3 linked regions of the Homo sapiens genome follow. The protein of the gene in region 3 purifies or fractionates together with the protein of the main gene of each other region. This does not show direct contact. Each region holds a gene or a part of one and is shown on either strand. Other genes may lie near its edges. The genes, in order: RPL13A, TOP2A and CTCF.

What was found.
Region 1: the proteins of CTCF (region 3) and RPL13A purify together in Homo sapiens (affinity purification with mass spectrometry; 4 studies listed by BioGRID and IntAct, with this or other methods). This does not show direct contact.
Region 2: the proteins of CTCF (region 3) and TOP2A purify together in Homo sapiens (affinity purification with mass spectrometry; 3 studies listed by BioGRID and IntAct, with this or other methods). This does not show direct contact.

The regions. Positions count from the first base shown.
Region 1 is NC_000019.10:49,485,387-49,489,134, reverse strand, and holds the start of RPL13A (large ribosomal subunit protein uL13), read right to left. Parts: upstream 1,528-3,748; 5' UTR 1,506-1,527; coding exon 1,491-1,505; intron 1-1,490. Other genes in the region: FLT3LG (fms-related tyrosine kinase 3 ligand), read right to left, coding at 2,933-3,120. UniProt on the Homo sapiens protein: Associated with ribosomes but is not required for canonical ribosome function and has extra-ribosomal functions.
Region 2 is NC_000017.11:40,415,839-40,419,586, forward strand, and holds the start of TOP2A (DNA topoisomerase 2-alpha), read right to left. Parts: upstream 2,059-3,748; 5' UTR 1,954-2,058; coding exon 1,933-1,953; intron 1,847-1,932; exon of another isoform or gene 1,746-1,846; intron 1,058-1,745; coding exon 902-1,057; intron 675-901; coding exon 584-674; intron 231-583; coding exon 167-230; intron 1-166. UniProt on the Homo sapiens protein: Key decatenating enzyme that alters DNA topology by binding to two double-stranded DNA molecules, generating a double-stranded break in one of the strands, passing the intact strand through the broken strand, and religating the broken strand.
Region 3 is NC_000016.10:67,607,383-67,611,130, forward strand, and holds part of CTCF (transcriptional repressor CTCF), read left to right. Parts: intron 1-3,441; 5' UTR 3,442-3,450; coding exon 3,451-3,748.

The sequences.
Region 1 (3,748 bases), on a different chromosome or scaffold from region 3:
CGAATTTCAGGTGGGATGAGATTAGGCAGAGTAGTCAAAAGCCCATGCTAGCTCTGCTATAGAGCACTCTGCTTTCCCCGGTAAACTGCTCAGGCACCGAACCTCAGCTTCCTCCGGAGTAGAAATCCTGGCCGGGCACAGGGGCTCACGCCTGTAATCCCAGCACTTTGAGAGGCCTAGGTGGGCAGATCAGTTGAGGTCAGGAGTTCGAGACCATCCTGGCCAATATGGTGAAACCCTGTCTCTACTAAAAACACAAAAATTAGCCAAGCGTCGTGGCAGGCACCTGCAGTCCCAGGTACTCGGGAAGCTGAGGCAGGAGAATCACTTGAACTTGGGAAGCAGAGGTTGCAATGAGCCAAGATCGCACCATTGCACTCCAGCCTGGGTGTCACAGCGAGACTCCGTCTCAGAAAAAACACTAAAAGTAGAAATCCTCATTGTTTTAATGCAAAAGCATGAAGCACACACTGGTTGTTACACATGCTTTGTAAGCGTTGGTACAAAGACTCTAAAATCCAGACAGACTTCCTGAAGTCGTGACCTTGGCCCAAAATCACCAATTCCAATTTAATTTCCTCCTCTGTAAAACAAGGATACCAGTAACTGCCTCAGGAATATGGTTAACTGAACTACGCAAAACATTGCGAACTGTGCTAGGCACAAAGACACATGCTTGGTGAACACAACTTGCCTAGATCGGCCTGGCTCTGAAATGTCACCCGCCCCAACAACAGACTACTCACAAAGAAACCTTTCCAGGGCCAATCCCTCCTTTATACTTAAGTAGCTACACCAGGAGCCAGGGAAAGGGCCCCCAGGTGTCAGGCCCAAAAGATGTCCCATCCTTGTGGAACCATTCATCACAGCTCTCGACTTCCAGTAACACGCCTCAGGACAATCGCCAATCCCCAAAACGACGGAAAACGAGTTCATTCCAGAGTGCCCCGCAGCCAACAGCTCTCGACCCCCCGCAGAAAGGCATTGAGAATTAAAAGAACCGGAGCTGCAGGGGACCCCGATTAACACCTCCACGTGAAATCAAAGTAGCCCGCGCACTGAGCGGGATAAAAATACCTTCCATTTTGGCCAAAACTCAGTTTCTCATTGCCCCGAGACCGCCCGGCCACACTTCCGCGTGTTCCTCATCGCTGAGGACACACAAGGGTCCAATTCGGCCAAGACTCTACCCCAGGGCCCCCACCCACTACCCGAGTTCAAGGTAAGCAAAATCTAGTTGCAAAATACCTGTCCTGTGCTGGAAGCTCTATCACCCTCGCCTCGAGAAGGAAATGCCACATTGTAGCCAACCCTAGGCCTAAAGAGAGCCGCGGCATTTCCTACAGATTCCCCTTATCCCAAAAGACTTCCATTTTGCTTCATTATGGATGTTAAGCTCCGCAAAACATGCAAGACAGAGAGGGTGCGACCCCATTCCGGCCTGGATCCCACCCGGCCCCTTGCCGCCCCGGCCCGCGCGGAGCCCATACCTGCACCTCCGCCATCTTCGGCAGCCGCTTGGAAAAGGAGGAGGTTTTGTCGCAGGGTTTCTTATCCCTTGAAACAGGGGCGGCAGAAGTGACGCAACGCGGTTGCGCGGACGGCTTCCTGTGTTTTCATTGGTCGAAGCGTTCTGCGCGTGCGCAGAGATTCCCCAGGGAAGGCGGGCCCTCTTCCGAATGTCCAATCCGGACATTCTTCCGGTTGGACCTCCGCGGTCAGCGCTGTGCCCGGCGAGAGATCACGTGGGGCGCGGAGGCGGTGCTGCTGGGGCACGGCCGTCCAGCCTCGGCGGCCATATTTTTGAGGGGCTGTTCATCTCGTTCACACGCTCTGTCCGCCATGTTTGTGAGTGGAAGCGCCATTACCCCTTCAAGCGACTGAAGGCTGCAGGGCCTCTGGTGGCCCGCATGGGGAGACCAGACCCGCCAGGCCCGCCTTTCCGCACTCAGTCCGGGCTTACTTTATTTTGTGAGACAGGGTCTCGCTGTGTTGTCCACACCAGAGTGCTGTGGGGCGATCATGGCTCACCGCAGCCTCCACTTCCTGGGCTCAAGGGATCCTCCTGCCTCAGCCTCTCGAGTAACTTGGACTACAGGGGCGCGCCACCATGCCTGGCTAATATATATATATATATATATTTTGTTGTGGCCCGGGAACGGGGGGAGTCTGACATGTTGGCCAGGCTGATCTCGAACTCCTGGGCTCAAGCGATCCTCCCGTTTCGGCCTCCCAAAGTGCTGGGATTACCGGCGTGAGCCCCGGAGCCTTGCCCATTCTAGGCTTAGAGATTTGGATTCCTGTGTCTGGTCGACTTCACTGTGACCTGGAGAAACCCTTGGCCTTATCTGGGCCTCAGTTTATCCATCTGTAAAACAGATGGAGGTGGTCTTCCCCAGGGGCTCTAAGAGTGGATCAAGGAATGGCTTCTAGTTGCCTGGCTGCACCAATCCACTGAGCGTTCCTCAGAGGAACTTCTCACTTTCTGGACTGTCGGCCTTTGCTTCAGCTGGGTCCCTTGCCCAGGATGCCCTCCCCACCCCCTCCAAATCTGGCTTGTCACCATCGCAATGCCATTTGGCTCTGGAAAGCCTCTCTGCTCTCCCTGCCTGGGTGAGTTGCCCCTCACACTGCCTCTGTTTTATCTCCATAGTAGCCTATGGCATCCTGCACCCAGGCTCGCTGAATCCCTTGTCTTCTCGTCCATAGCCAAGGAGACCTGGGGCACCTGGGCTGGTTCTGACTCAAATCCAGGCTCTGACATTGCCCAGCGCCGGCCCGGGGCTCCAGGGGACCTCAGAAAACACGTATTGAATGAAACATTGCATTGCAATTCAAAAACCAAGATTCTGAAATCAAAACTACCCCATTCACACCCATCCATAGACAGACCTGGCCAGAGCTGGTAGAAAAGGATGATTTATATACAATTTCATGGGGACAAGGGCTTTGTACAGAGTTGGGTAAATGGGGCCGGTGCTGGATTCTGGCGTTGCCTCCATTCTGGGGAGGGAATGAGAGGGGCCCAAGGAAGGGACCGGCCTCTAGCCAACTTCCTCTGTGTCCAGGCTATGCATCCTCTGGCTGGTGACTCCCCTCTGTGTGCCTCAGTATCCTCCCCTGTAAAATGGGATGATAGATGTCTGTCTCACTGCGTTGTTTAAGGCTCCGCTGAGAGAGGAGAGGGAAAGTAGCTTAGCTTGGGGCGGGCCACAGATTTATGCCCAAAACAACTCCATTCCCAGCAAGCGCTTACTATGTGCTAGGGCATTGCTGTCCAAGAGAACGTGGCCATGATAGAAATGTTCCCTATATTTCCCCGGGCGCGGTGGCTCATGCCTATAATCCCAGCAGTTTGGGAGGCTGAGGCTGGTGGATCACCTTAGGTTGGGAGTTTGAGACCAGCCTGACCAACAGGGAGAAACCCCATCTCTACTAAAAATACAAAATTAGGGCCAGGCACAGTGGCTCACGCCTGTAATTCCAGCACTTTAGGAGGTCGAGGCGGGCGGATCACCTGAGGTTGGGAGTTTGAGACCAGCCTAGCTAACATGGAGAAACCGTTTCTACTAAAACTACAAAATTAGCTGAGGCAGGAGAATTGCTTGAACCCGGGAGGCGGAGGTTGCAGTGAGTCGAGATTGCACCATTGCACTCCAGCCTTGGCAATAAAAGCAAAAGTCTGTCTCAAAAGAAAAAAACAAAAACAAAAACAAAATTTGCTAGGCATGGTGGTGCATGTCTGTAA
Region 2 (3,748 bases), on a different chromosome or scaffold from region 3:
TGTTGGATCTAGGTGGTGGGTATCCATAGGTTTTTCATTTTAGCATTCTGCTTTTGTGTACTTTTCTCAACTTCTGTTTAGGAAAAGCCAACTTCACCAGTAATCAAAATACATGCAGCTAACAATAGCAACGAGCTACATAACAAAAACTAAGCAAAAGACGTACGGATCAATTGTGACTCTAATACAAGACATTTTTGGGTCCCTTTGTTTGTTGTCCGCAGCATTAACTGAAAGAAAATAAAATATACATTTGTAAGAAATTAGTGTTTTAAGAAACATTCTGTAACTCTAAGTAAGATATAGAAAAAAAAGTTCCCAAACAGCACAGGAGTGGCATTAACAAGGTGTTAATTTAGCAATTTTTGTCCATAGTACTGTTTCTACGAGAAGCTCAACCTCCTGGGCTCCAGGAAACCAGCTCACCTTTATCAACTGATTGAAATGACAGGAGCCCTGGCTACAGCAGGTTTGGTAGAAATGATACTTTTTGTTTTTACTTTTATCTTTTTTAAATTTTTATTTGGAATGATACTTCTTATGAAAGATTTGACCAGATCTTTATATTAAAGGATTTACTCACCTAGAATCTCATCAAAGATTTTGTACAAACCAGGAACAAAAGTGACTTCCCTATAGTTAATGCCAACATCTTCATCGTAAACCCACATTTGCTAGAAATAAGGCAAAGAAATACTGTTATTTTTATTCTATATTCATTGTTCTGTTATCATGATTACCATAAAGTGTTCATATTAAGTATTACCATATTTAGGCCAGTTCCAGTGACACTCAGTACATGAGAGATACAGAAAGGTCACACTCAGTACATGAAAGGTACAGAAAGAAGAGTATCCATTTCAACTACTAGGTTAACTGCCTTTGATGAGCTTGATTTTACCTGGGTCACTAATTCCACAGAACCAATGTAGGTGTCTGGGCGGAGCAAAATATGTTCCAATTGTGTTTTCTTTTGATAGATTCTTTCAACAGACAGTCTTTTCTTAGCATCTTCATTTTTCTTTATTTTGTTGACTTGCATATTTTCATTTACAGGCTAGCAATTAAAAAAAAAGAGAGAAAGAAGGGAATTTTTAATCATAAGTTTACCCTAAACTAGGAACAAAATGCCTACCATAGTGAGATGTCAACATGCATTGCAATCTGTTAGTAGGCAGTGGTGGAGTTGCCAGTTTTGTACAAATAGGACAATTTAAATTCGCTGCGGCCAGGTCCCCAGGTGTCAGGTTAAACAGACACATATTATCTCACCAAGTGGGTCTGTCTGGAAACCTCTTTTCTTGAGCAACATGGTAGATGTCATCAATAAAATACACCCACTTCTTTCAGTTCCTGCATACATTATTTACCGAGTGCCTATTATTATAAATTATTTACGGTGTCCCGAGCACACGACACCGTAAATAATTCTAGTTCGGCAGCAGCAGTTTGGGCGGCTATCCGTTCAATCCCTTGGCCACCTGAGCGTTGTGAACTCAGGAAGGGGGCGCTTTTGTAAGCTGGCCAGCTGCTCCAGAGAAACACTGTGCTAGGCTCTGCCCTTTCCAAGATCGGGGACATTCAAGACCGTTTTCAAGCAGCGGGCAGGAGGGGAAAGCATCTGTACGCGCGACTCAATAACGTCGCACCCGGGCCGCTGTAACATGGATCCACTACGGGACCAACGGACTCCTGCCCCTAGAAACAGGGCAACAACGCACGACACCCTGGAAGCCGGGTCATACTTCACTACTAGCACCAGAAGGGGCTTCCGCCTCTCCACGATCACCCCGGAACCGGGAATGGAGAATATGGGCTCCCAAGCCGGTCGCCGGCCTGACCGCAGCCCCAGAGCTTCACCCGTCACGGGCGGCCAGAGAGATGCCCGGGCCGCGCGGAGGCTCCACCGCCAGTCCCCCCCGCGAGCCGTACCTGCAATGGTGACACTTCCATGGTGACGGTCGTGAAGGGGCTCAAGAACCCTGAAAGCGACTAAACAGGCAGGACCCCACGAGACCACCCCCGACCAAGCCGCTTCTCCACAGACGCGCGTCGGTTAGGAGAGCTCCACTTGAACCTTCCTTTAGCCCGCCCGAAGCAGACCAGCCAATCCCTGACTCGCTCTCACCGTCTCCGTCCAGAAGAACCAATCGTAGCTTGCCTTTTATATCCACCTATGAACGGCTGAGTTGGCCGGGGTTTGTTTGAATAAACCAATCAGGTTAGGGAGGCGGGACTAGAGAGGCTTCAAAAGGCACCACTCGGCGTCATAGCGGAGAGATTGACAGGGAATCTGGCCAATGAGAAGGGCTCACTTGTTTTCTCGTGCGGAAAGCTTGGAAGAGATGGGCTTTGGAAGCGGGAAGGGGTGGCCTGAGGCAAAAGTGTGCAGGAGAAAAGCAAAGGATGTTTATTCTCCAGGAACTGCCAATCTATTTAAGATCCCTGAAATCTAAAAACTGTCCTCTGTTCTGACGTTGTTAGCGAGGGGAATGGGAGCCTTAGCTTCGTTTTCCTGAGGAAACTGAGTGCCGGCTTTCTGGACAGGCAGCCTGGCTGCTTGGTTGAAGCGAACAGATTCTGGCATCTGCCTCAACCCCGCCCCCTTTACCCTCGAATTCATTTTTCAAAGAAATAAAAGTAGGCTGTGTGCGGTGGCTGGAGTCTGTATTCGCAGCACATTGGGAGGCCGAGGCGGGAGGATCGCTGGAGCCTAGGAGTTGGAGACCAGCCTGGGCAACATAGCGAGACCCCGTCTCTACCCAAAAAGGAAAAAAAATAGCCAGGCGAGGCATCGCACACCTGTAACTCCAGCTCCGGAGGCTGAGGAGGGAGGATCGCTTGAGCCCCGGGGATCGGAGATCGAGGCGCCTTGAACCGTGATTGCTCCACTGCACTCCAGCCTGAGTGACAGAGCGAGGCCACCTCAAGAGATAAATACATAAATAAATAAATAATAAAAATAATTAAAATAAAAGTGCCACAGTTGTGGTTTGGGGGTTCCATATAGTGGAAGGATGTAGAAAGGCTTTGCAAAATGGAGGGCAGCATTCAGGTCCCCAGTAGAGCAGCGCTGGACTGCAACTGGTAAATCGAAAGGGATAACTTGTGGTGGTAGCCTCTTGAGCTGAGGGTGGGCTCAGCCGTCCGGGGCTGAAACCTTTTCCGCAGCCAGCTGGCCAGATACCCTCCGACTGGCTACTTTTGCTCACCTCCGTGAACCCTGCAGTCCAGAACAGCTGTTCCAATTTGACAAGGAAATGCCAAGACTGAAGCTTTTTTGTTTGCTTGTTTTTTTGTTGCTTTTTTTTTTTTTGAGATGGAATCTCACTCTGTCGCCCAGGCTGGAGTGCAATGGCGCGATCTAGGCTCACTGCAACCTTCACCTCGCGGGTTCAAGCGATTCTCCTGCCTCAGCCTCCCGTGTAGCTAGAATTACAGGCGCCTGCCACCACGCCTGGCTAATTTTTGTATTTTTTTAGTAGAGACAGGGTTTTGCCATGTTGACCAGGTTGGTTTCAAACTTCTGACCTCAAGTGATCTGCCCGCCTCAGCCTCTCAAAGTGCTGGGATTACAGGTGTGAGTCACTGTGCCCGGCGAAGACTGAAGTTTTAAAATTACTCTTACATATAAATGTTTGAGTGGATTAAACAAAGTTATTACCCTTACAAGAAGCCAGAAAAAAAAAAACTGCACAATTTGAGTGCCTACTAATTCCAGCTGAGCCACCTCTTTCCATTCATTGCT
Region 3 (3,748 bases):
GCAACCTCCACCTCCAGGGTTCAAGTTCTTTTCGTGCCTCAGCCTCCCAAGTAGCTGGGATTACAGGTGCACACCACTACGCCTGGCTAATTTTTGTATTTTTAGTAGAGATGGGGTTTTGCCATGTTAGCCAGGCTGGTCTTGAACTCCTGGCCTCAACTGATCCACCAGCCTTGGCCTCCCAAAGTGCTGGGATTACAGGCGTGAGCTACCGTGCCCGGCCCATTCACAAGATATAAGAGCCAAAAACTATGAATTGGCTGATTTGTTTTCTGCTTTCTATTATATATTCAATTTGGTTGGCATTTATTGAGTACTTACCATCCTGGGCACAGTGCTAAAGAGTAAAAACCGTGGCTGGGCGTGGTGGCTCACGCCTGTAGTCCCAGCACTTTGGGAGGCCGAGGCGGACAGATCACGAGGTCAGAAGTTCAAGACCAGCCTGGCCAACATAGTGAAACCCCGTATCTGCTAAAAATACAGAAAATTAGCCAGGTGTGGTGGTGGGCACCTGTAATCCCAACTACTCCGGAGGCTGAAGCAGGAGAATCACTTAAACCTGGGAGGCAGAGGTTGCAGTGAGCCAAGATCACGCCATTGCACTCCAGCCTGGGCGACAGTGCGAGACTCCGACTCAAAAAAAAAAAAAAAGTAAAAACCGGTTGGGCGCAGTGGCTCACACCTGTAATCCCAGCACTTTGGGAGGCCGAGGCAGGCGGATCACGAGGTCAGGAAATCGAGACCATCCTGGCTAACATGGTGAAACCCCGTCTCTACTAAAAATACAAAAAATTAGCCGGGCATGGTGGTGGGCGCCTGTAGTCCCAGCTACTCGGGAGGCTGAGGCAGGAGAATGGCGTGAACCTGGGAGGCGGAGCTTGCAGTGAGCGGAGATCGTGCCACTGCACCCTAGCCTGGGCAACAGAGCGAGACTCCGTCTCAAAAAAAAAATTAAAAAAAAAAAAACGACTTGTTAGATGTGGTTCTTATTCTCAGGGAATTCCTGATCTCATTGTCAGGAGAGAGGTGAATGTCAAGTTGATGGTATGACATGGGCAGTTTTGTGCAGTGTCTACAAACACGGCCATTGCAGTCTGGATCTAAGTTCTGAGTTTGGCTTCAAAAAACAAGGTCAAAAACCCTTGACAGGGTGGGGAAAATGGGGAATTGCTGTTGAGTGGGTATAAAGTTTCAGTTATGCAAGATGAGTAAGTTCTAGAGATCTGCTACACAACATAGTTCCTGTATTAATCGTATAGCATTATGCACTTTGAATTATGTTGAGGATGGATCTCATGATAAATATTATCACCAAAAACAAAATACAAGGAAATTTTGGAGGTGTATTTAGTGTTTTTTTTTTTCTTTTTTGAGACGGAGTTTCGTTCTTGTTGCCCAGGCTGCACAGTACAATGGCGCAATCTTGGCTCACCGCAACCTCCACCTCCCGGGTCAAACGATTCTCCTGCCTCAGCCTCCCAAGTAGCCAGGATTACATACAGGCATGCACCATCACACCTGGCTAATTTTGTATTTTTACTTAGGACGGGGTTTCTCCATGTTGTTCAGGGTGGTCTCGTACTCCCGACCTCAGGTGATCCACACACCTCAGCCTCCCAAAGTGCTGGGATTATAGGCGTGAGCCACCACGTGCTTAATAAAGCTACCTTAATAAAGCTTTTTACAAAACATTGGCAGACCCGGGCACAGTGGCTCAGTCACATGTATAATCCCAGCACTTTGGGAGGCTTAGGTGGGAGGATTGCTTCAGCCCAGGAGTTCAAGGCCAGTCTGGAAATGTGGCAAGACCCCATAATTGCAGAAAATTAAGCTAATTCATATATGCATCATCTCACATCCTTGTCATTTTTTGTGATGAGAACACTTAAAAATCTGCTCTCAGTTATTTTCAGGTATACGTTATTATTAACTGTAATATTCATGTTGTATAATAGATCTCTTGAACTTATTCCCACTGAAATTATATGTCCTTTACCAGTGTCTTCCCCACTACATGTGTAAGATTTAAATTAGTTTTGTTAGTAATTCTTTAATATCATCAGATATCCAGAGTTGAAATTTCTAATTGTCTTGTGTCACATCTTTTTCACCATTTATTGGTTTGAATCAGGATCCAAAGAAGATTCATGCATTGTGATTGATTACTGTCTCTTTAAGACTCTTTTATCTGTATCAGAGTTTCTCAGCCTCAGTGCTCTTGACATCTTGGGCCTGATAATTCTTTTTTTTTTTTTTTTTGAGATGGAATCTCGCTCTGTCGCCCAGGCTGGAGTGCAGTGGCGCGATCTTGGCTCACTGCAAGCTCCGCCTCCCAGGTTCACGCCATTCTCCTGCCTCAGCCTCCCAAGAGCTGGGACTACAGGCGCCCACCACCACGCCCGGCTAATTTTTTTGTATTTTTTAGTAGAGACGGGGTTTCACCGTGTTAGCCAGGATGGTCTCGATCTCCTGACCTCCGGTAATCTGCCCGCCTCAGCCTCCCAAAGTGCTGGGATTACAGGCGTGAGCCACCGTGCCCGGCCTGGCCTGATAATTCTTTGTGGTGGAGGACTGACCTGTGTCTTGGAGGATGTTTAATAGCATCTCTAGCTTTCACCCACGAGATAACAGTAGCACATCCCAGCCCAGTAGTGACAACCAAAAATGTGTTAGCCAAATGTTCCTAGAGGCAAAGTCACCCCAGGCTGAGAACTACTGATCTACTGGTTCTCCCTCCAATCAGTCTTCCCTTGTATTCTTCTTGTTATCTATTTGCAGAAGAACCTGAGTATAATCTTGCAGTGTTTCCCTCGGTATGGATTTCACTGATTTAATCCCTGTAGTATAATTTAACATCCTGAGTCACCAATTTCCTGTTAATTGGGTTGGATCTAGAGACTTGATTGGTTTCAGAGTTTTGGAGTTTGTTTGACAAAATTGCATTATAGGTAGTGGTTTTTTCTTTTTCTTTTTTTTTTTTTTTTTTTTGAGATGGAGTCTTGCTCTGTCCCCCACGCTGGAGCGCAGTGGTGCAATCTCGGCTCACTGCAAGCTCCGCCTCCTGGATTCAAGCTATTCTTCTGCCTCAGCCTCCCGAGTAGCTGGGACTACAGGCGCCCGCCACCATGCCTGGCTAATTTTTTTTGTATTTTTAGTAGAGACGGGGTTTCACCGTGTTAGCCAGGATGTTCTCGATCTCCTGACCTCGTGATCCGCCCGCCTCAGCCTCCCAAAGTGCTGGGATTACAGGCGTGAGCCACTGCACCTGGCCAGTAGTGGTTGTTTCTTTCATCAAGAGGCACATGTCTGTTGTGTCTTTTTTAATATTAACAACCATTGATGCCTAATTCATTCACCAAAGGGTCTTTTTGTTTTAAAATGTATATTTTTATTTAGACATGCTTTGCTTTAAATAACAATCTGTGTTCTCCCTTAATAAAGGCAGGGGAAATGGAAGGTGATGCAGTCGAAGCCATTGTGGAGGAGTCCGAAACTTTTATTAAAGGAAAGGAGAGAAAGACTTACCAGAGACGCCGGGAAGGGGGCCAGGAAGAAGATGCCTGCCACTTACCCCAGAACCAGACGGATGGGGGTGAGGTGGTCCAGGATGTCAACAGCAGTGTACAGATGGTGATGATGGAACAGCTGGACCCCACCCTTCTTCAGATGAAGACTGAAGTAATGGAGGGCACAGTGGCTCCAGAAGCAGAGGCTGCTGTGGACGATACCCAGATTATAACTTTACAGG